Linked DNA regions of Homo sapiens. The protein of the gene in region 1 purifies or fractionates together with the protein of each later gene. This does not show direct contact. Each region holds a gene or a part of one and is shown in the gene's direction. Other genes may lie near its edges.

Evidence for each region.
Region 2: the proteins of CDK15 (region 1) and SQOR purify together in Homo sapiens (affinity purification with mass spectrometry; 2 studies listed by BioGRID and IntAct, with this or other methods). This does not show direct contact.
Region 3: the proteins of CDK15 (region 1) and EPS8L1 purify together in Homo sapiens (affinity purification with mass spectrometry; 2 studies listed by BioGRID and IntAct, with this or other methods). This does not show direct contact.
Region 4: the proteins of CDK15 (region 1) and HMGCS1 purify together in Homo sapiens (affinity purification with mass spectrometry; 2 studies listed by BioGRID and IntAct, with this or other methods). This does not show direct contact.
Region 5: the proteins of CDK15 (region 1) and ALDH1A3 purify together in Homo sapiens (affinity purification with mass spectrometry; 2 studies listed by BioGRID and IntAct, with this or other methods). This does not show direct contact.
Region 6: the proteins of CDK15 (region 1) and EVPL purify together in Homo sapiens (affinity purification with mass spectrometry; 2 studies listed by BioGRID and IntAct, with this or other methods). This does not show direct contact.
Region 7: the proteins of CDK15 (region 1) and UGT1A9 purify together in Homo sapiens (affinity purification with mass spectrometry; 2 studies listed by BioGRID and IntAct, with this or other methods). This does not show direct contact.

What each region holds. Positions count from the first base shown.
Region 1 is NC_000002.12:201,813,037-201,816,536, forward strand, and holds part of CDK15 (cyclin-dependent kinase 15), read left to right. Parts: intron 1-3,500. UniProt on the Homo sapiens protein: Serine/threonine-protein kinase that acts like an antiapoptotic protein that counters TRAIL/TNFSF10-induced apoptosis by inducing phosphorylation of BIRC5 at 'Thr-34'.
Region 2 is NC_000015.10:45,687,029-45,689,404, forward strand, and holds part of SQOR (sulfide:quinone oxidoreductase, mitochondrial), read left to right. Parts: intron 1-1,308; coding exon 1,309-1,376; intron 1,377-2,010; coding exon 2,011-2,189; intron 2,190-2,376. UniProt on the Homo sapiens protein: Catalyzes the oxidation of hydrogen sulfide with the help of a quinone, such as ubiquinone-10, giving rise to thiosulfate and ultimately to sulfane (molecular sulfur) atoms.
Region 3 is NC_000019.10:55,085,869-55,088,423, forward strand, and holds the end of EPS8L1 (epidermal growth factor receptor kinase substrate 8-like protein 1), read left to right. Parts: coding exon 1-105; intron 106-192; coding exon 193-324; intron 325-523; coding exon 524-650; intron 651-845; coding exon 846-1,020; intron 1,021-1,434; coding exon 1,435-1,567; intron 1,568-1,659; coding exon 1,660-1,746; 3' UTR 1,747-2,055; downstream 2,056-2,555. UniProt on the Homo sapiens protein: Stimulates guanine exchange activity of SOS1. May play a role in membrane ruffling and remodeling of the actin cytoskeleton.
Region 4 is NC_000005.10:43,310,613-43,314,665, reverse strand, and holds the start of HMGCS1 (hydroxymethylglutaryl-CoA synthase, cytoplasmic), read left to right. Parts: upstream 1-1,253; 5' UTR 1,254-1,310; intron 1,311-1,484; exon of another isoform or gene 1,485-1,644; intron 1,645-4,053. UniProt on the Homo sapiens protein: Catalyzes the condensation of acetyl-CoA with acetoacetyl-CoA to form HMG-CoA, which is converted by HMG-CoA reductase (HMGCR) into mevalonate, a precursor for cholesterol synthesis.
Region 5 is NC_000015.10:100,907,331-100,910,830, forward strand, and holds part of ALDH1A3 (retinaldehyde dehydrogenase 3), read left to right. Parts: intron 1-1,077; coding exon 1,078-1,152; intron 1,153-3,500. UniProt on the Homo sapiens protein: Catalyzes the NAD-dependent oxidation of aldehyde substrates, such as all-trans-retinal and all-trans-13,14-dihydroretinal, to their corresponding carboxylic acids, all-trans-retinoate and all-trans-13,14-dihydroretinoate, respectively.
Region 6 is NC_000017.11:76,013,807-76,017,306, reverse strand, and holds part of EVPL (envoplakin), read left to right. Parts: intron 1-1,678; coding exon 1,679-1,857; intron 1,858-1,941; coding exon 1,942-2,080; intron 2,081-2,197; coding exon 2,198-2,391; intron 2,392-2,730; coding exon 2,731-2,881; intron 2,882-3,500. UniProt on the Homo sapiens protein: Component of the cornified envelope of keratinocytes. May link the cornified envelope to desmosomes and intermediate filaments.
Region 7 is NC_000002.12:233,670,575-233,674,697, forward strand, and holds the start of UGT1A9 (UDP-glucuronosyltransferase 1A9 precursor), read left to right. Parts: upstream 1-1,323; 5' UTR 1,324-1,360; coding exon 1,361-2,215; intron 2,216-4,123.

The sequences.
Region 1 (3,500 bases):
ACCTGGTGTCAAATGGACTTGGGTTTGCAGCACAGGTCCACCAATCACTAGTGGTATGATGTTGGGTAGGTTACTTTAGCTATTTATTACTCAGTTTCTTGCAGGAAGAGGATAATAGTGGTACCTATTTCATGGAGTTGTTATGAGTATTCAACAAGAATATGTATATAAAGCACTTATCACAGAGTCAGTTTTTCAGAGTTCAACAAATGTTGACCATTTTTATTCCATTCTTCTTTTCCTGGGTAATGTCTTATTTACCATCAAGATAACTAATACTTTATAACATAAACATCAAGAAGCCAACATAGTGAAATGAATCATTAAAAATATAATTTATCAACCTTTATTGCATGAGCCATTTGAAATAAGATGATGATAGGATTGCTATGCATTTCAGCAAAATCCCAGAGAAATGGCACTTCCCTGGCCTTATTTTCTCCCACTTTTAACTACTTATCTTCTGTTCTTTACTGAGCACATGCTATATGCAGAGTATGCTGCTGGATGCTGTGAAGGATGAGAAGAGAAACCCATGTCTTTGTTCTATCATTTGCAGTCTTAACAGAGCACATGATTCAAGTTACAAGTGTATAAAAGACATAAACTAAGATGAGAGCAAGTTAGTCTCAGTGTGACTGATGGAGTCACTAGATTTTGAACTGAGCTTGGAAGGATAGGTTATGCAAACAAGCATGGAAAAAGCAATTCAGAAAATGAGTTTATAACTGAATTTGATACCCTTTTCAAAAGTCTTTCAGAGCCCCTGAGGAATACATCATTTTGAATTTAATTGGAAGGGCCAAATGGGCTATTGGTTTAGCCAGAGATTCATCCTGGTAGGATCAGGTGCATTCTGGGAGAAGGCATGGTTTTAAGTGTTTAATATAATGGAAACTGCATTAACTAATGTACTTATTAATGGTCTCCATGAAAGGATGATCAGATTTGGAAAGAGATGTATGGATAGGTTAAAGAGTATTTGTGAACGTAATAGAAATTCCCAGGTCACCCGCATAAGAGGAAGGTTTCCTTTGTGAGCTTGAGTTTGCCAATTGCTTAAGATTGGCTTTGCTTAGATATTGCCCACAGCCAAGTTTTTCAGGTTGACATTTAACTGTAACAGTGAAACCTTTTGCCAGGTTTGCTAACAGATGGTTCTCAGCATGGTTCAGAAAACCTGGATCCGTTTTCTTCTGTATGCTAAATGTTTCTTTCATTGCATATTTACGGAGGAATTGCCTCTCCATCACAGGTGTTTACAATTACATTTAGTAGTCAACTGTGGACTTTCTTGGTTTGTTTTATGGACTTACCTTACCGAATGCTTTGCTCGTGTAATATTAAAAACCACAAGAGGATTTCTGACACATTGGAGGTTGTTAGGAATCCAATTTCCAACAATGAATGTTTCTTTTTACACCACTATAAAAGCTTGGAGCCCTTGTTAAAAGAGCCCTCTCCCCTCAAGAAGATATGAGGCTTTATTCGAAAACTTTGGCACTGTCCCATTTTTCCTGTAAGAACTTTAAGGATGTGAGACCAGGGAGACAGGAGGTTAAATGAGAAGGGCTGGAAGGCAAAGTAAGAACAGCTGGAGTTCATTAGCTAAAATCCAGGGTCACTAGCTAAAAAGGCAACCGAAAGGCACGTGCAGGAAAACTGAACAAGTAATGCAGCCCTCTTTAAAAAGCCTTGAAGCAGGAATTGCTTTTCCTGAACAATTTGGCTGCCCTGATGGTATAGCAGCCAAAGATTTATTAAGTATGATTTTACTACATATATGGTCTCTTTCTATACAGGTAGAATACATGTGGCAATTTACTAGTCTGGTCATTTGGAGTACTATTTTCATTTGACCTTAACATGTGATATTATGAAACTAGCAAAAGTATGAACAGCACTAAGGAACATTTTTTTTTTTTTTTTTTTGAGACGAAGTTTTGCTCTTGTTGCCCAGGCTGGAGTGCAATGGCACAATCTTGGCTTACTGCAACCTCTGCCTTCGGGGTTCAAGCAATTCTCCTGCCTCAGCCTCCGGAGTAGCTGGGATTACAGGCATGTGCCACCACACCCAGCTAATTTTGTATTTTTAGTAGAGACAGGGTTTCCCCATGTTGGCCAGGCTGGTCTTGAACTCCTGACCTCAAGTGATCTGCGTGTCTCAGCCTCCCAAGGGAAATATATCTTAATACATGTGTCAGTGCTTTTCATACTTCTTTCAATCCTCTTAACAATCTTTAGAGATAGATATTATTAATATTATTCCACTATATGGTGGTGATTCAAACCAAATCTCTCTGATTCAAAAATTCATAGGCTTTCTACGCACCCACTGTAGAAATATTCATTTAGCACCTACTATGACCAGGTACTCTGCCGAACTGCTAGATACACAGCAATACACAAAATAGATGTGTTCCCTACCACCCTCATTCCTTTGCTAATTAAGAAAAGCAGAGGCCTTCATAGTGCCTTGGAAATCTCTCATAATTGACTCTAGAATTGTATTTTAAGTGTTGATTTTTACAACTAGGAGGAAATACTTTCATTTGAATAGGCTAATGTGTTATGTTTTTACATAGTACAACATTTCTTAGTTTTATGAAACTTTATAGCAATATCTTAATATAATGTGCATTGTTTTAAATATTTTTGTTCAAGTGGTCAACTTTTGGTTTAAACTGAGGACTTTCAGCCTGTTAATAGCATTTTTCTTAGGAAGGAGTCATATAACTAATCTTTTTTGAGGACAAGGCATATGACATAATCTCCCCCTTCCCCTACATAATGTATATTTTTAAAACCTTTATACCAACCCTAGGAAGTAAAATGTGCTATTTTTGTTGTAGAGATAAAGAAATTCTAGCCTCAGAGAGGTTAGTTAACTTGTCTGAGGTCACAGAGATAGTAATCAGAGTTGTTAGAATCCATTTCTATTCTATTTAAAATCCCTTCTACTTTATTATGATGAATTTGGAAATGCTTAACTAAAGTATTTATTGTTTAGCAACAGTAAAAATAAAAATAGAAATCTGTTTTTATTATACATTTTATATAAACATTAAGGAAAATGCAGAAGAAGTATTTTTTTAATCTTTAATTTTAGATTCAAGGGGTACATGTCCAGGTTTGTTACATGAGTATATTGCATGATGCTGAGGTATCTTGTCACCCAAATAGTGAGTATAGTACCTGATAGGTAGTTTTTCAACCCGTGTCCCTCTCCCTTCCTCTCCCCTTTTGGAGTCCCTGGTGTAGTGTCTATTATTCCCATCTTATGTCTGTGTGTTCCCAATACCCCCAGTTATTAGCTTTCACTTGTAAGTGAGAACATGTGGTATTTGTTTTCTGTTCCTGGGTTAATTCACTTAGGATAATGGCCTCCATCTGCATCCATGTTGCTGCTAAGGAAATGGTTTTTTTTTTTTTTTTTTTTTTTTGTGGCTGCATAGTGTTTTATGGTGCCAGTGTACAAATTTTCTTTATCCAATCCACCA
Region 2 (2,376 bases), on another chromosome or scaffold:
AACTCCTGTGATCTGCTCACCTTGGTCCCCCAAAGTGCTGAGATTACAGGCGTAAGCCACCATGCTCGGCCACAAACTGCTGTCTCCTTAAAAGGGTAGTCTTTTTTTGTTTTTCTGAGGTGGCGTCTCACTTTATCCCCAAGGGTGGAGTGCAGTGGTGCCATCTCGGCTTGCTGCAACCTCCGCGATTCTCCTGCCTCAGCCTCCTGAGTAGCTGGGATTACAGGCGTGTACCATCATGCCTGACTAATTTTTGTATTTTTAGTAGAGATGGGGTTTCATCATATTGGCCAGGCTGGTCTTGAACTCCTGACCTCAAATGATCCACTTTCCTCGGCCTCCCAAAGTGTTGGGATTACAGGCATGAGCCACCATGCCCATCTGGGCAGTCTTAATTATTCAACATTGAACACAAACTGGGTTTAGATTATATGAAGAAACTATTACTAATATTTTGGGGGTGCGAAAATACTGCGGGTTTGTGTTAAGAAAATTCCCCATCAGAGATACAGACAGGAGATTTATGAGTGAACTGATGTGATATCTGCTCTAAAAATACAGCGGGAAAAAAATAGCATGTGTGATGAGATGCATGAAACAAAACGATGGAATTTGAACATTTTCCTAATAAAAAAGGCAGTCTCCCCATTCTTGCCAAAGAAAAACAGAAACAAATCCCGATGTATGTATGTATCTATCTGTATCTGTCTGTCGTTCTGTCTGTCTGTCTGTCTATCTAGGAAAGAGACAGAGAGATGGAAATACAGGTAGATCTATATATCTGTATCTCTATATCTATAGATCTATATCTATATCCACAGATCTATATCTATATCTGTATCTATATCCACCTGGTCCTGCCTCAGCCAGGACAGTCCGGTAGAGAGGAAGGCCTGCTTTGTCTTATTGGAAATGCCTGGGGCTACCAATCCAGACTGCCTGTGAACAGGGACACAGGGATAACCCACATGGTCAAGAACACTGACTAAGTGGACACACAGACTAAGTTGACAGCCTCAACCCCAAGAGGAGAGGCAGTGGATTTGGGGTAGGTCCCTCCTTACAGCCACACTGGAGGGAGTCGGCTCTTTAGTATCAAACCCATGGAAACACATGCGCAGGCCTTCCATGAATTAAAGAACCCCCTCCGGTAGTCAGAATTTCAATTAGTAAGAAGGTCATGTTCTAGTCACAGTCTTGAGGGATGGGAAATGGAATCTTCTTGTTTACATTAAAGTTATTTGCAAATTAGTTTTCATGGAAAACCTTGATGCTTACATTTTTCTGACTTTCCCATTTCTCTTATAGCTGCCCAGTCAGGAATACTTGATAGGACAATTTCTGTAATTATGAAGAATCAAACACCAACAAAGAAGGTTTGTATGCCTTGTAAGAATCACTGTCTCAATGATCATCTTCCATTCTGTGTAAAAGTAGTGTTTTCCCACAATTTTGCACTTTCTGTCTTTTCTTTTTTTCTGTTTTTCTTTTTTTTTTTTTTGAGATGCAGTTTGCTCTTGTTGCCCAGGCTGGAGTGCAATGGCACGATCTCAGCTCACCGCAACCTCCACCTCCTGGGTTCAAGCGATTCTCCTGCCTCAGCCTCCCGAATAGATGGAATTACAGGCATGTGCCACCACACCTGGCTAATTTTTTGTATTTTTAGTAGAGACAGGGTTTCTCCATGTTGGTCAGGCTGATCTCAAACTCCTGACCTCAGATGATCCACCCGCCTTGGCCTCCCAAACTGCTGGGATTACAGGTGTGAGCCACCGCGCCTGGCCCAGTTTTGCACTTTTTTAATTAGTGTCTCCAATATGGGCATTTCTGTTTTTGCCATTAGTACTATTTTTTTTGTAATATAATTTACATTTTTCACAGTACAAAAAGCTAGAATATACAGAAAAGAAAAAATATATAAGCACTCACAGCAAATAATAAATTCTATAGTGTTAATATAGTACCATGAAAAAAATCTACTTTCCAACTCAGTCTGATTTACAATTTTAGTATGATGGCTACACATCATGTCCACTGGTGACCGGCTACAACCGTGTGATTCTTGCTGAGTTTGACTACAAAGCAGAGCCGCTAGAAACCTTCCCCTTTGATCAAAGCAAAGAGCGCCTTTCCATGTATCTCATGAAAGCTGACCTGATGCCTTTCCTGTATTGGAATATGATGCTAAGGTAAGTGCACTGCCTGGTTCCTGGATGAGGAAAGGGATTTGTAGCACATCTCCACCCAAAGGGGATGCAGCCTCTTTTCTTCATTATTAGCAGTGACCAAGTGTTCTGTCTTCCATGCTCTAGGCCCTCTTTTGCTGCTGGATAAATAATAATAGTAAATCACTTTCACATACCAAGTACTCTATCA
Region 3 (2,555 bases), on another chromosome or scaffold:
CCTCAGCTGGAGTCAGAGACAGCAGGAAAATGGGTCCTGTGTAATTATGACTTCCAGGCCCGCAACAGCAGTGAGCTGTCGGTCAAGCAGCGGGACGTACTGGAGGTTAGAGGAGCGGGAGGCTGAGGGGCAGGAATTAGCCAGCCCTAGCTGCAGACAGGCTCTGAACCCTCTGTTCTTTACCACACCCAGGTCCTGGATGACAGTCGTAAGTGGTGGAAGGTTCGGGACCCAGCGGGGCAGGAGGGATATGTGCCCTACAACATCCTGACACCCTACCCCGGACCCCGGCTGCACCACAGCCAAAGCCCTGCCCGCAGCCTGGTGAGCCAGCGCAGACGCTGGGATCTTGAGGGTGGAGAGGCTGGGACCAGATCCTGGGAACAAGGGGCGTGGGGATCAGCTGTCAAGAGTGCTGGAGCAGGTGGTGACTGGGGGTTCAGAAATGCATCTCCAGAAAGGGGAGAGGCTGGGACTCTGAGTCCTCTCCCTAACCCAGGTACTCTCCTCTCCTTCCTTTCAGAACAGCACTCCTCCTCCACCACCAGCCCCAGCCCCGGCCCCACCTCCAGCTCTGGCTCGGCCCCGCTGGGACAGGCCCCGCTGGGACAGCTGCGATAGCCTCAACGGCTTGGACCCCAGCGAGAAGGGTGAGTGGTGGGGACGCCGGCTGCGGGGAGCGGTCCTTATCCTTGCTTTCCAGGCAGAGAAACGGGGGCTCAGAAAGAGCAAAGGGACTCCCGTCCCATTCTGGGGACGCTGGAGCGCCCCCCCGCCCCGCCCTCTGGCCCCAGGACCCCTCGCCCTGAGCCCGCACTCCCTACCTCCCGGTTTCCCGCCTGCAGAGAAATTCTCCCAGATGCTCATCGTCAACGAGGAACTGCAGGCGCGCCTGGCCCAGGGCCGCTCGGGACCGAGCCGCGCAGTCCCAGGGCCCCGCGCCCCGGAACCGCAGCTCAGCCCGGGCTCGGACGCCTCCGAGGTCCGCGCCTGGCTGCAGGCCAAGGGCTTTAGCTCCGGGTGAGTGGGGCCGGGGCCCTCTCGGCGCGGGTTGATACGGACGCTGGGAGCGGAGCGTTCCGATCGGCCGGGAGTCGGGGGGCGGCAGTCGTGGAGACCACAGGGAGCCGGGATTAGCCCGAAGTGAGGGTCTGTCTGGTAGCAACACCCAATGGCAGGCTGTGATTGCCATGTTTTTTCAGACTCCGACTGGATTCCTTAGGGAAATCCCGTACCCTTTGAAAGCAGGATGCGGCCACGCCCCCCGGGTGGCAACATTGTGATTGGTGGGTGGGGTTCAGGAGGTGTCGGGCCTGCCCCCGCTAGAGCTAGAATGCTGTTCTGATTGGACCATCGCCGGGTGGGCGTGACATGATTGTCCGGGCTGGGGCATCCGCCGACCGGCCTGACCGCGCCCGGGCTGCCCTCGCTCAGGACCGTGGACGCGCTGGGTGTGCTGACCGGGGCGCAGCTTTTCTCGCTGCAGAAGGAGGAGCTGCGGGCGGTGAGCCCCGAGGAGGGGGCACGTGTGTACAGCCAGGTCACCGTGCAGCGCTCGCTGCTGGAGGTGAGCCGGACCGCTGGTCCCTGGGTCTGGGTAGGGTTGGGATGACGAGGGCTCGGACGCCAGGACAAAGCGATTTCCACCCCGCCCTCCAGGACAAAGAGAAAGTGTCAGAGCTGGAGGCAGTGATGGAGAAGCAAAAGAAGAAGGTGGAAGGCGAGGTGGAAATGGAGGTCATTTGACCTGCCAGGCGCCCTTCGCAAAGAGTGACGAGGCCCCGTGGGAGAACGGACTCCTCAGACTCTCCCCAATAGCGGAAGTCGATCTTCTGAAGGATGGCCAATCTGCTCCGGCCCTGGTCTTCCCCCATCCCGGTGGACAGACTTAACGATCCTTGCTGCAGTCCCTCCGGAGAGGATCTGGACTGGCTGGGAGTGGGGAGGGCGTGGAGACAGTCTACGGAAAGCGCTAGCAGACCCCCGAGAGGGTGCAGTGGAGCCCTGAGCATTGTAATATGCGGCCCAGCCTATAAACAGCCTCCGTGCTTAGCAGATGGTGTGCCAACTGCTGTCCTCTACCCGGCTACCAGGGGGCTCAGAAACCTGCCCCTCGACCCAGTCACAGCCTCATGGAACCTGGAAAATGTTCCACCCTCTTTGGTTTCTCTCTGAACCCTCCTTTCCATCCCCAGGGTCCCAAACCAGGCTCCCTCCTGACCTCCTAGCCAGCCTAGTCCAGCTTGCCCCACCTTCACGTTTCCCTGGCTCGCGGCTGCTGGGCATGAGGCTTTGTGTCTCCCTTCCCGCCTCACCAACGTTCTCACTTCATTCCTTCCTGCGTCCTGGCCCTGCCCTTCTCCAAACGCTCCCAAGCGTTCAACCTCTGAGGTTTGCACCTGCTGTCTCTGCTGGCTGAAACGGCCATTCCCTGCCTGGCGAACTCCTGTTCAGCCTCCCTGGCCCAGCTCAAACACTCACTGTGGGGAAGCCTGCCCTCATCCCCGAAGCTAGTTTCCCAGCATCCACTTCTCCATTTTGTCCCCCACCTCCTG
Region 4 (4,053 bases), on another chromosome or scaffold:
AAAGAATCTCCCATAACAATAATTGTGTGAATCACAGAATTACCAATGACCCCTTATCAATAGCATTCCTGTTAATTAAATTGAGATGGGGAGAGATACAAACAACTCCGAACCTCACTCATGGTCCCCCACCAAAGCTAAGTATTATGGCTTCTCTCTCTGACCAGATAGAGGCAGAGTTTATTGCAAAGCCACAAGTGTCCTCCTTTGGATTCCCCCAAATAGTGTTTCAGTGAATTCCTCTAGCTTGAATTGCTCCTCTCTATTTGCTGGGGGAGTTAGGCAGTCCGTATCCGATGGATTTACTATGCCGACAATTACGTGGCCTTTCCACAGCCTTTTACTTGGCAGGTACCACATATGAAGCTTAGAAGATACAGTGGGCAACAGGCCAAATGGAGTCCCTTTCCTCAGAGTGCATGGCCTGGCAAAAATCCTTGAATTCAGTATCAACTTCCCTTCACAGGCAAGGCTCTGCACCCTCCCCACGGATGCCTAATCCTGAAACCATTTTGTTTTAGGTTTAGTTAGAAAGCTTTGTCTCAAGAGCACTTTTGTTTGTTCTGTTTTCTTTAAGTCAAGGTAGTTTTGAATAAAGGAGACAATATTTGAGTATTTACAAATCGGGTATTTAGACTATTTACACATATACAAGTTCTGGGTGAAGTATTCTGCTCCAATTTGCAATCTACGCACACTTTGCTAGAAAACGTTAAGACTGAATTCAAATCAAGTACAGTATTTCAGAAATCTTTCAGGTGAAGCCTAGTTCTGGTTGCTAGGCAACCTGACAGACTCCCAAGCTGGGACCACCTCGCCTCCCACATTTGACCATCTCTCCAGCGGTGGGACGCGGAGTACCCATTGGCCCGCATCTCCTCTCACTTAGTCCCAATTGGTCGGAGAACCTCTCACTCCGCTCCCGTTGGCTCTCGCCGTATCTCGCAGCTCCGTCATTGGCAACTGGGCTCTCGTGCCACCTCACGTCAGTCTCTCACACCACTTCCTCGGCCCTGAGACTTTGTCCCCGCCTCTTCTCCCCGCCCTTCCAGCCACGAGGGAAAATCCTAGCGAGTCATCGCCTCTAGTTTCCTTTTGATTGGTAGAAGCCGGACTGGGGGGCGGGCGCTGCCGGGCAACTCTACCGGCCGCGATTGGCTGTGGGAGCCACCGTCCCGCCTCCCAGCGACTCTCGGCGGTGCCGGAGTCGGGTGGGTTGGCGGCTATAAAGCTGGTGGCGAAGGGGAGGCGCCGCGGACTGTCCTTTCGTGGCTCACTCCCTTTCCTCTGCTGCCGCTCGGTCACGCTTGGTGAGTGTCCCGCGCTGGGGAGTAGAACTGGGCTGCGGAGGTGCCGCGGGCGGGGTGTGGGCCAGACAGAGGCGGTGTCCTTGACTAGGCCCGAAGGAGCTGGGGCTCTGGGTCAGGACGTAGGCGTGGACTTTGCCCGGGAGGATGGGGCACCGTGAGCGGGGCCGGGCGGGGGTTCCCTCGTGAGGGACCTGAGGCCGACCGTAGCGGATCTGAGAAGATCCGAGAACACAGGCGAGTCGCGGAGGGGAGAACGCGAGAGGGCGTTGAGGTCTAGGTATTCTAACGACAGAGGAGTTGGAGGTGCCAGAGAGGCAGCTGTGACCGCCTAGAGGTGAGTGGGGGGTGTCAGGAGGGGGAGAGAAGACAGTTGGGCTACCAAGGCGTTTCCAGAGCGTTGGTTAAGGGTGGACGCCAAAGGATGGGCAAGATCCTCTTTAGACGGAGGCTGGTAGGTTCGCAGGGGGTGTGTCCTGCTGCCACATATAGAGTTGATGGAAAGAAGGGAAGTGGGTAGCATTACTTTTCTTCCTCAGCTCAGGTGCAAGAAAGCGTTCACAACCGTGATTTAGACCTGGCTAAGTACTGGGGCTCAGTCTGTACTTGCTTCAAATCTCATAGATCACTGCCTCCCGCCTTCCTGCCTCCATATTTTTTTTTGTCTACGTTTTAAAAAATAGGCTTCCTTGGTGTTCTGAAATCCCACATCTCTCTCCTACTAATACCTTCGGGACCAGCTTTAGGTGATACAGTGTAATGGGCAGGCACTCACAGAGTCCTCCCACAAATAGGTTTTGGATTAAGCTAAGGATATTTCAAAGCAAGTATATGGAGTCTTTGAAAACCCACGTCTGGCCTTGACCAGTGGTAGAGAAACGATTATTCTGATCCACTCTGGAGGAGGGATTTGGGGAACAAATAATGTGAGGTTGTGCCTGTTTGTCATGCTTGTCCCTATGGCCTTAGCCTTAAGGCATCAGTAGCTGCTTTCACTGCTCACCTCTGCTGCAGCTCCCCACCTTCCCGAGGATGCTCTTGCCACCTGCTGCAGTAGGATGATGTGTTCTGGTTGCTGCTAACTAACATTTGCTCTGTTTTAGGCATGAATATGAAAAACAATGACAAGATAAACAACAAAATTAAGACAAATGGAAGTGCTCCTAGAGTTAACAGATTTTTCCTTCTGAGATGTGTTTTGGACTTTATTGCACAGATACTATTAGATGAGAGGCAGTTGAAAGTCGTTAACATTATCCGTGTCAGTAGTTCTTTGCACTTGAGACACCTAAGCAGCTTGTGTTCTTTAAACTTTATTTTAAAATTGCAGTTATTTTTGTGTGAAGAAGGGGGCAGGGATAGCATACCTTATGGGAAGAGAGAAAGGCTTTCTTTGTGTCTACCTTTGTAGATATTTCTCACCTAAGTTTGTAAGTTTGCCCTTTATTCGGTTCTACTTTAGTTCAGCTCAATTCTAGTATAATCATCAGTAACCCCAGCACTCAGAAGGTCTGACTTACGCTGTGGGGAGGGAGTGTAAAAGGATATTTTATGTTTGGAGCCATAGGCCACATCATTTGGGCCTTGTTTTAATTTTGTTTTTCATCTTAAATATCCCTCCAGATTGCTTTTACATCTTGTTTCTTTTAACTGTGGATTGATTTTGAGATTTTGACTTAGATTTTAGATAGCTTTTCTCAGAAGAAATAAACGCAAAAACCCGATATTGTTGTAACATCAGTTTCCTGTGTCCTCTAGAATCATTTAAAACCTGGTTGGATCTTCCATAATCCAGTGGAATTGGATATGAGATGTAGCTGGAGAAGTTTGTTTTGCTACATATCAGAATCTCCAATTAGTTTCATTTAGAAAGGAATATAGCCTTATAATTTTATGCTGGGTTACTGTGGAACCAAATATCATAGAAGGATGTGTGATATTTTTATGTTTTTCAAGAAGGTAGTATAGATTTAAAAGGTGGGATACATATTACCTGTCCTAATGATAGGACTAGATTTTTTTTTTTTTTTTTTTTTGGGGAGACAGAATCTCGCTCTGTCGCCCAAGCTGGAGTGCAGCAGCGTGATCTCGGCTCACTGCAACTTATGCCTCCCAGTGATTCTCCTGCCTCAGCCTCCCAAGTAGCTGGGACTACCGGCATGTGCCACCACACCCAGCTAATTTTTTTGTATTTTTAGAAGAGATGGGGTGTCACCATGTTGGTCAGACTGGTCTTGAACTCCTGACCTCAAATGATCCGTCCGCCTTGGCCTCCCAAAGTGCTGAGATTACAGGCGTGAGCCACCATGCCTGGCTAGAACTAGACTCTTAATCTCTTCATCCTAATGCATGGCGTGTGTTGATGTTCACTTAATGTCTGTCAACTGGGTGTAGTTACACCAGTAGCGGAGAGGCTAATCTTTGAAAGCCTGAAGTGTTGTCTTCATCTTTGCAGGGTTTTTAGTTGTGGGTGCATATGGGAATGATTGTAAGACCAACAAATGTTTTCTGATTCCATATGGGCTTCTTACATTTTTCACCTTGGAATCTGGGAACAATTGAAACCTACCATATGCCTTGAACAGTAGCAGTAAAGAGCCAGTTTCTTTAAACTAGACATTATGGTGCTGCAGCTCATCTCAAAACTGATAGCAGGCTACTCTGGACACACTACATATAGAGTAGCCCTGCTCTGCAAGGAGCAGTAATAAATTAAAAAAAAAATTAAAAAGTGATAGCAGAAAGC
Region 5 (3,500 bases), on another chromosome or scaffold:
TCATTATTCTTCTATTAACTGAGAGTTTCTCATTGTTTACATTGTATATTATATACCAAGCCCTGTCTCAGTGCTTCCTTCCATCCTCATGACCATCTTCTGAGGTAGCTGCCATTATGTCTCCATTTCAGAGATGAGAAAATTGAGGCACAGAGAGATGAAGTGACTTGCCCAGGGTCACACAGCTAGCAGATGGCCGAGAGGGCTCCAGTACCTGTGCCTGTGGCCCCTGTGCTGTACTGCCCCTCCAACTTTATTTTCCATTCTGATTCTAAAAGCAGTTCATGCCCATCTGCAAAATGTGGATACTAGTCTCTGCCTCATCAGTAATTCTGCAGATTATGTTTTGTGATCCCCATATTAAAGATTAATGAATTGAGGCTCAGAGAGGTTGAGCAATAAGCCCAGAATCATATAACCAGGAAGCAGGAGAACTTTGGGGTCAGTTCTGTCTCATTTCAAAGCTAATTCTTATTCCTCTACACCCTGATTTTTCTTTTTCTTTCTTTCTTTCTTTTTTTTTTTTTTTTTTTTTTGAGATGGAGTCTTGCTCTTTCCCCCAGGCAGGAGTGCAGTGGCACACTCTCGGCTCACTGCAACCTCCACCTCCCAGGTTCAAGCAATTCTCCTGCCTCAGCCTCCCCAGTAGCTGGGACTACAGGTGCACGCCACCACGCCCAGCTAATTTTTGTATTTTTAGTAGAGATGGGGTTTCACCATGTTGGTCAGGCTAGTCTTGAACTCCTGACCTCAGGTGATCCATCCATCTCAGCCTCCCGAAGTGCTGGGATTACAGGCATAAGTCATCATGCCTGGCCCTCTCTTCTTTTTTCTCCCCTTATCATTTCATTCCTATCCCAATGAAACACACTCTGTACTTGAGGATTTCCAAATTTTAGTTGCTGATGAGAAGAATGAGAAGACAAAAGTTGAGAGCACCCTGTGTTTTCATCAAGGAAGCTTTGGCAAAAGACTGTTTATTAGACAATGCCCTGCACTGGGGGCTAAGTGGCTGCAGTGCCAGGAGCCAGGGGGTCTTCTCCAGATGACTCTGAGCTTTCTTCCATTCTTTTCTAGGATCAACTGCTACAACGCCCTCTATGCACAGGCTCCATTTGGTGGCTTTAAAATGTCAGGAAATGGCAGAGAACTGTAAGTGTTTCCATCATTCTGAGCCTGCCGTGGGCTGAACACTAGATCCACTAGATTTGCAGGCAGTGACACAGGCTCCAATCTGCTGACACCCCGTCCCCCCCACACCGCCGCTCTGTCTGGGCCAGCTGTGTCCCTCTAGGGTTGGTGGGGACCCATCCCTTCCTCTCTCCAGCCCACCCTTCCCACTTACATCCTCAGCCTGCCCCCCTCCAGGCCTCGGCTTTTGTGTCTGCCCAGCAGCCATCATGCTGGGGACATTCAGTGGATATTTGACAAAAGCTCCCTGGACGGGGACACAGGCAGAACTGAAAAAGTGTACTTTTGCCAGATGTGGGGTGTCATTATTCACACAACTCCCCACTCACAGCAGTGAAGACAGGTAAGGCTGACCCAGGTAAGGCTCCTACCTGCTGGGTCCTTTTTTCTGAGCCTAGTAGGGGACCTCCTCCCAGGAGGCATATGACAACACCTCCTGCTGGGCCTCTGCGGCCCTCTCAGTATATGCAAGCCTACTGCAAATCCCTCCACATGCGTGTGCAAACCCACTGCAAACCCCTCCATGCGCGTGCAAACCCACTGCAAACCCTCCACGCGTGCATGTAAACCCACTGCAAACCCCTCCGTGCGTGTGCAAACCCACTGCAAACCCCTCCACATGTGTGTGCAAACTCCTCAGTGTGTGAACCCACTGCAAACTCCTCCGTGTGTGTAAACCCACTGCAAACCCTCCACGTGTGCATGTAAACCCACTGCAAACCCCTCCGTGTGTGTGCAAACCCACTGCAAACCCCTCCACATGTGTGTGCAAACTCCTCAGTGTGTGAACCCACTGCAAACTCCTCCGTGTGTGTAAACCCACTGCAAACCCTCCACGTGTGCATGTAAACCCACTGCAAACCCCTTTGTGTGTGTGCAAACCCACTGGAAACCCCTCCACTGTGTGTGCAAACCCACTGCAAACCCCTCCACATGTGTGTGCAAACTCCTCAGTGTGTGAACCCACTGCAAACCCCAGTGTGTGCAAACCCACTGCAAACCCCTCCACATGTGTGTGCAAACTCCTCCGTGTGTGTAAACCCACTGCAAACCCCTTCGTGTGTGTGCAAACCCACTGCAAACCCCTCCACTGTGTGTGCAAACCCCTCCACACTTCCTTTTTTGTCCTGCCTGCTGGGAAAATGAGTTCCCTAGGTTTAGATTAATGGGTGGAACTTCTTGCGTCTGGCCCACACCCAGAGCTGGCTAGAGCAACCCGGGAGTGGAGATGTGTGGTTTCCAGCCGGACACTGTCTTCTCTCCCCAGCTCAGGATTTTATTAGCCTGTGTGGACAAACATTTTGTAGGATCAGTGTTCCCAAGGAACCATCTGTGACAACACCCCAGGTTCCTGGGACATCTCTAGGGACCCAAACTCTTCCTTTTATTTCACTAGTCTGTCCTATTTATATACAAATGTAGTCCCTTGTTTGCACTTCTTCCAGCGGGAACAGACTCAAACGCTTCCCCTCACCTTGGGCCTTGGTTGGGGCCTTTGTGTGGCTCTCTTTTGAGATTCTTAAAGATGCTGTGAAGGGATGGGCCTGGCTTCCATCCCCAAACAGATGTTCTTGACCAGTCTATGTGGAATTGGGGTCCTGTCCCCCTCCCACCTCAGTCCTGCTTTGTAGTCCATCCCTGACTCTCAGCAAATACTCCAAGGCGTCTGCACTTGTGAGTGAAGCCTGTCCATTAGCCTTCCCCCTTATCCCTGTGGCTGGCTTCGCCTTCAGCGGACATCAGTAATTGTTGGCCATGAAACCCCTTTGCAGAAATTGCATTTCCTCCCTCTAGTGGCCTGTTTGCATTTGAGTTCTGTGAGCCCCTGCTTCATCACTTCTTACACCTGCCCCTCCAGGGACAGGCAGCCAGGGCTGGGGTCACCAGGGTCCCCTCTTGGGCCCTCCAACAGCAACAGTACTGGCAACAGCTGGGATTTGCTGAGCACAGACTCTGCAGCAGGCTCGGTTGAGCTCTCTATGCCTGTTCCTTCATACCATCCTCACGCCCATCCATGAGATGGGTCCAGCTGTTTTCAGATGAGAAAATGGCACAGGAAGCTGGTAAGTGACAGTCAGAAATGAATGCTGGCAGCTTAGTCCTTGGACCCACCGCAGTGCAGGACCTTGCTCAACAGGGATCACCCTTGTCCGCCACCTGTTCATGAGGCCACCCAGGGTTTGCGTGGTCATTTGTCTCCTTTCATCTGCTGCCTTCAACCAGCTGGGTCATTAGGGCTGGGGAACCCAGACCCCACACAGTCCTCCTCCCAGACGCCAGACACAGCCTCACGCCACAGCAAGGACTCC
Region 6 (3,500 bases), on another chromosome or scaffold:
ACGTGGACTCAACACTCCCAAAAGTGCTCAGAGTGAAACCCACACCGGGCCGCAGTCTGGGTTATCCTTCCAAACCAGTTTCTTTTCTTTTCTTGAGACAAAGTCTCTCTGCATCACCCAGGCTGGAGTGCAGTGGCACGATCTTGGCTCACTGCAACTTCTGCCTCCCAGGTTCAAGCAATTCTCCTGCCTCAACCTCCGGAGTAGCTGGGATTACAGGCACACACCACCATGCCCAACTAATTTTTGTATTTTTAGTAGAGATGGGGTTTCACCATGTTGGCCAGGCTGATGTCGAACTCCTGACCTTAAGTGATCCACCCATCTCGGCCTCCCAGAGTGCTGGGATTACAGGCGTGAGCCACCGCACCTGGTCTGTTTTTTGTTTTATGAGATGGGGTCTCACTTTGTCACCCAGGCTGGAGTGCAGTGGTGTGCAATGGTATAATCTCAGCTCACTGCAACCTCCACCTCCCAGGCTTGAGTGATCCTCCCACCTCAGCCTCCCGAGTAGTTGGGACCACAGGTACAACACTGAGCCCAGCTAATTTTTTTGGTAGAGATGGGGTTTTGCCATGTTGCCCAGGCTGGTCTCAAACTCCTGAGCTCAAGCGATCCTCCCGCATTGGCCTCCCAAAGTGCTAGGATTACAGGCATGAGCTACTGCACTTGGCCATATTATTATTATTTTGAGACGGGGTCTTGCTTTGTTGCCCAGGCTGGAGGGCCAGTGGCATGATCAAGGCTCACTGTAGCCTCAACCTCCTGGTCTCAAACAATCCCCCTGTCTTCACCTCCCAAGAAGCTGGGTCCTTAGGTTTTGAAGTCATAGCATCTGCCACATCAGCGGTGTTGGGGTCCAGGAGAAGCCCAGTTAGACTGGGCGGTGGGTGGTGCCTGGTGCAGAGTCAGCACTGCTCGGTGATGGACCAGGCAGATGAGTGAATAACTGATGAAAGAATGAGGGCAACAGTCCCTAGTGGGCAGAGCCAGGGCTTTGGCTGGAGCGACAGGGCCAGGGGACCTGATGGTCTTGTGAGCAGGACAGTGACATGAAGATGACTGTAGGTAACTGTGCCTGGCGCTCACTGCTGAGCTCAGGACACAGGCTCTTGTGTCATCCTCCCATCAATCATTCTTTTTTATTTATTTTATTTTTTTGAGATGGAGTCTTGCTCTTGTCTGCCAGGCTGGAGTGCAGCGGTGTGATCTCAGCTTGCTGCAACCCCCACCTCCTGGGGTTCAAGCAATTCTCCTGCCTCAGCCTCCTGGGTAGCTGGGATTGCAGGTGCGCGCTGCTACGGCCGGCTAATTTTTGTATTTTTAGTAGAGACAGGGTTTCGCCATGTTGGCCAGGCTGGTCTCGATCTCCTGACCTCAAGCAACCCACCCGCCTTGGCCTCCCAAAGTGCTAGGATTACAGGTGTGAGCCACTGCGCCCGGCCCCTCCTATCAGTCATTTTGTAGATGAGGAGACTGAGGGTCAGACAGTTTGCTCTGCCCCAGGTCATCCACAGAGGAACGAGTAGCGCCAGGACTGAACGCAGTTCTCTGGCCTGAGCCCAAGCATGTACCCACCACACTCTACTGCCTCCATGGGCGCAGAGTTAGGGTATCCTGGTAGAAGAGTCGGGCGGAACCCACCTGCCCAGAGATCCCTGACCCCGCCCCTCTTTAGGGCACAGCCCAGCGCCTGCAGAGCCTGGGAACGGAGAAGGAGACAGCCCAGAAGGAGTGCGAGGCGTTTCTGTCCACGCGGCCCGTGGGCCCCGCTGCCCTGCAGCTGCCCGTAGCCCTCAACAGCGTGAAGAACAAGTTCAGTGACGTGCAGGTTCTGTGCAGCCTCTACGGGGAGAAGTGAGTGCTCTGGGGACAGGGCAGCCACGCAGGGCAGCAGCGTGTGGCCCAGGGAGTGTCTGAGCCTTGCCTCCTCTGCGGCAGAGCCAAGGCTGCCCTGGATCTGGAGCGGCAGATCCAGGATGCGGACAGGGTCATCCGAGGCTTCGAGGCCACCCTGGTGCAGGAGGCCCCCATCCCTGCTGAACCGGGGGCTCTGCAGGAGAGGGTCAGCGAGCTGCAGGTAAGGGACCAGCCGGGGCCTCCTGGTGTCAGGGGAACCCAGCATTCAGGGGCGGGTGGGTGGACACGGCGTCTCCCCAGCCACGAGGGTGCACGGCTGCGTCCCCTCCTCCTGCAGCGCCAGCGGAGGGAGCTGCTGGAACAGCAGACCTGCGTGCTGCGGCTACACCGCGCGCTGAAGGCCTCGGAGCACGCATGCGCTGCCCTGCAGAACAACTTCCAGGAGTTCTGCCAAGACCTGCCTCGCCAGCAGCGCCAGGTGCGAGCCCTCACCGACCGCTACCACGCCGTAGGGGACCAGCTGGACCTGCGGTGAGCGACTGGGTCCTCGGGGCACAGGGTGTGGGCTGGTGCAGAGCCAGGCATTGCTGTCTACAAGCTGTGTGATCCTGGGCTAGTGACTTCACGTCTCTGAAGCTGTTTCCTCATCTCTAAAATGGGATAACAACAGCACTTACCTCCCAGGGTGGTGCCTGGTAGAGACTGTCCCATCTCTGAATTCCCAGGGTCAGGGAGTGGGGATCTGCACAGCAGGCCACTCGGGCCTCCTGACCTGCCCCCAGGAGGAGGCTCCCATCAGCCTCCCTGTGCACCTGCCCCTGTCCCCACGGGGCAGGTCTTATCTCTGTTCTGGGCCTCGTCCTCCTGCAGGGAGAAGGTGGTGCAGGATGCCGCCCTCACCTACCAGCAGTTCAAGAACTGCAAGGATAACCTGAGCTCCTGGCTGGAGCACCTGCCCCGCAGCCAGGTGCGGCCCAGCGACGGCCCCAGCCAGATCGCCTACAAGCTGCAGGCGCAGAAGGTGAGGCTGGGGCAGGGACAGCTGCCTGTGCCCATGTGGCCCCCTAGTGGCCAAAGCTCAGAAGCGCTCTAAGGGGCTTCAAAGCCCAGGCCACGGAGGCCCTGGGCCCCTTCCCTGGCCTCCAGCTGAAATGCTCCTCTTTGCCCACAGACGGGGCCAGCCCATCTCTGTCTGGCCCGACTGGGGCAGTGGGATTTACAAGCTCAGGCCACAGAGCCCTGAGGGTTCCGGCCACTTTCTCATGCTCATCAAGCCCCTGCCATGTACCAGGCAATGTGTTCACTGGGGTACAACCCTGCACCCTGGCAGCTCCCAGCCTGGTGGGGGAGGTCTGTGATGCCGACAAGCATTGGTGGGAGAAGCTGGAGTGCTGTGGGTGCCCCCAGGCTGGACACACTTGCGGGTCAGGATCGGTAGTGTGGGAGGAAGCAAGTGTAGCCGGGGGAGGGATGAAATGTCCCATGCAGAAGGCATGGCAGTCAGGGGAAAGGAGGGGGACTCAGGGGCGAGGGCGACCAGATGGGCAGACCACACAGGCCCTTCCGGCACAGGACCCAGGCTGCACTCTCTCCTGCAGCCCCCAGAAGCTGCTGGGGAGGGGATGCTTCCAGGCCAGTGT
Region 7 (4,123 bases), about 32 Mb from region 1:
GTATCTGGTACTGATTCAAAAGCACTCATCTCCATCAAGTCATCTTCTGTTGATTCCTCTGGTGTGGTGTCTATTCATTCTTGAATTTCTCACAGATTCATATCTTGAAAGACCATATCCCCCACCTTTTGTTGCTGAATTAGAGATGTTGGGTTTGCAGGCAAGTAGACCACTTTGACACCTTCAGTGTTGAACTCATGGGTTCTGGGTGGCTAGGGGCATTGTCCAAAAATCAAAAGAACTTTGAAAGACCGTCTCTTACTGGCAAGATATTACCTGACTTCAGGGACAAAGTAATGATAGAACCAATCCAGAAAAAGTGTTCTTGCCGAGGCCTTCTTGTACAACAAAAAAACTGGCAGTGGGTATTGATCTTTTCCCTTTAAGGCTTGGAGGCTAGCAGGCTTATGGATGGGGGCAGTCCTATTTGTAAACCCAAACATACAAACATACAAACTATGTCAAAGGCATAGCATGGGTACTGTGAAAGGAGGGTGAAAACACAAAGTTGACATCACCTCTGACCTCAAGGAGTGCTCAGCAGACTGAGAGAGACAAGTACATATTTTCCTGAAGGAGGGCACTGGAGTGATGGCGTGTTTAGAATGTGCAAGTTGAGCGGTCACTGAGAGGCAGCTCAGCAGAGTGCTCTCGCAAGGATTGGGCGGGCAACTTCCCACTGCGTGCGATGTATCTTAGGAAAGCCATTTAAAATAGGAGACGGTTACTTTCCATCAAGTCCCTGGTATGGTCCATGGAAGCAGGGTTGTCAGTCTCATTTCAGCATTTTAGAGGCTTCTCAGGGTTTGGAAATGGAAGAAGAGAAGCAGCAATATGTATGCATTGCAGAGACACAGGCGAGCCCCAATTTAGGAGGTTAGGAGGTCAGTGCTAAGGGCCTTGTTTTCTTTGCTTAGAGCATGAGTTGCCATCTTCTCTGGACAGAGAGTATTTGGTTGCCTAAAGGTAAAATCTAAATTTTGCTCTGGGACAAATTCCAAAAAAAATTAGCTTTAATCAAATTTACTTTTACTTTATCTTTCTGAACCTTCAAGGTCCAAAAGCATTGGTTAATAATTCTGCTTCTAAACTTAACATTGCAGCACAGGGCATGTTCTGCCCCCAAGGCAAAGACCATAAGCTACTGTTGTCTGGAAAACATACAAATAGATATCTCAGCAAAAGCTACTCATATATTCTTGTTCTTTTGGGTAAATCATTGTCAGTGACTGATTTTTTTTTTATGAAAGGATAAAAACACGCCCTCTATTGGGGTCAGGTTTTGTGCTGGTATTTCTCCCACCTACTGTATCATAGGAGCTTAGATTCCCAGCTGCTTGCTCTCAGCTGCAGTTCTCTGATGGCTTGCACAGGGTGGACCAGCCCCCTTCCTCTATGTGTGTGTCTGCTGCTGACCTGTGGCTTTGCCGAGGCAGGGAAGCTACTGGTAGTGCCCATGGATGGGAGCCACTGGTTCACCATGAGGTCGGTGGTGGAGAAACTCATTCTCAGGGGGCATGAGGTGGTTGTAGTCATGCCAGAGGTGAGTTGGCAACTGGGAAGATCACTGAATTGCACAGTGAAGACTTATTCAACTTCATATACCCTGGAGGATCTGGACCGGGAGTTCAAGGCTTTTGCCCATGCTCAATGGAAAGCACAAGTACGAAGTATATATTCTCTATTAATGGGTTCATACAATGACATTTTTGACTTATTTTTTTCAAATTGCAGGAGTTTGTTTAAAGACAAAAAATTAGTAGAATACTTAAAGGAGAGTTCTTTTGATGCAGTGTTTCTCGATCCTTTTGATAACTGTGGCTTAATTGTTGCCAAATATTTCTCCCTCCCCTCCGTGGTCTTCGCCAGGGGAATACTTTGCCACTATCTTGAAGAAGGTGCACAGTGCCCTGCTCCTCTTTCCTATGTCCCCAGAATTCTCTTAGGGTTCTCAGATGCCATGACTTTCAAGGAGAGAGTACGGAACCACATCATGCACTTGGAGGAACATTTATTATGCCACCGTTTTTTCAAAAATGCCCTAGAAATAGCCTCTGAAATTCTCCAAACACCTGTTACGGAGTATGATCTCTACAGCCACACATCAATTTGGTTGTTGCGAACGGACTTTGTTTTGGACTATCCCAAACCCGTGATGCCCAACATGATCTTCATTGGTGGTATCAACTGCCATCAGGGAAAGCCGTTGCCTATGGTAAGTTATCTCTCCTTTAGCACCTTAAGAATACTTCACCTTTGGAAATTAAAAAAGGATTCTTTACTGAACTGTGATTTGACATTTTCATTTGTTTCATTTCAAATTTCTTTCCAGTTTAACAAATTATTTTGTGCCAATGCGTGTACTCGTCAGTAGCAAATTTTATAAAACTGCCCTTCTTGAAGATATGTATTTATAACTTATAAAATTGTGGAACATATTCAGCCTACATTTTTAAGTACCATGTTTAGAAAAGTACCAAAAACCACAGTAAGAAATGAAACTTCCCTTTTTTGTTAATTCTATATGCCCGCCCCAGAGGAAATGGTCTTAGTTTTGTGAACATTCTTTTAATGTTTTTAAAAAAGTACTTTAGGTATATACAATATCTAATGTAAATTCTCACACCTATTTTGTTAAAATAAAATCTAGTATTGGGCTGGACATATTCTTCTTTTCTTTGCATTTTTCACTTGCCAATAAATTATAAATACCTTTATAGACCAATACAGACAGATTTGACAAGTTCTATTAATAATTGCATAAAATACTTTACTTTGGATGCAATGTAGTTTTTAACCAATTAATATTGATATAGATTTAGGCATTTTGCATTTTTTGTCTTTATGAATAGGGCCGTGTAAACACTCTTTAATACTTTCCTTACATGAATATATTTCCATATTCTTGCTTTTATCTTAGTTGACTAGAGCCCTACATGTAGGGTTACAGGATTTCCATGAATTGAGAAGGATTGGCATTTTTTTGCTATTGTGTCTTCCTGTTCAGGAATATGTATGTCTCACTATTTATTCAGATCTTGTTTTATATACATAAATAAAATTTTTCACTATATAAGCATTTTCTGTTTCTTATTAACATTTATTCCTCAGCATTTCATTATTTTTGAAACTATTGGGTACAGGACAATTTTTCCATTTCTACATGTAACTGACTATGGGTAATTAAGGTTTTGTTTTTTGCATATGTATCTTGTATCCAGCCACATTACTAACTTATCTTATTATTTTGTAGTATACAGTAGATGTACAATATACAATGTCAACTGCAAAGAATTCCCTTCTCTGATATTTATACCACTTATTTTGCTTTGCTGGAGCTTATACTTCCAAAGCACTATTGAGTAATATTGTGAGAGTAGCCAGTTTAAATTTTAAATAGGGATTCAATCACTTGTGATTGAAAAGTCCATGACAAATACCAGAATAACATTCTTAGCAAATGTGTAGTTGGCTGAATCCAGATTAAACACCTAATGTCTAATCTCAGTATATTATTTTGGAGGGATGGAGTATACAATTTATCTATTGTTCTGGCTCCTTACAAGGTTCAGTAGACTTGGTAACACAGTCATATTCTCTCACATATTGGCAGATGTTTGGTGAAAGAGTGACTGTTCAGCCAACTCATGGGAAAGTGAAATAATGCTCTTTCTAAAAAGCAGGAGGACTACAGTTGTAGGCCTTTCAAAATTAGGCATGACTTTCGGATCTTCACAAGACTAGGCTAGGAGATGCAAATGGCAGAAATCTAAGAGGTTAGACTTGTCTAAGCACTTTTCTCCCCTTTACCCTCCATAAATTATAGTATCCTCCATTAATTGTAGTAACAGGCACCACTTATGTGTTGCCTGCACCCCACAACCTTTGGCTGAGGGTAAGGCCCTGCCACTTCCTGAACCCACACTGAATTTATTGTGCCTCACAGCGTCACCCAGAGGCCTTTAGAGATATAAAAACCTATATATGATTTTATATCACCTATGATAGAGGGTTATCTATAAAATATGAAACATCAAACTATATATGGTTTCATTTATTTTGATTATAAATATCTTTTATGAGATATGAAATAAATGTGTTTATGTGTCTATTAAAGAATATG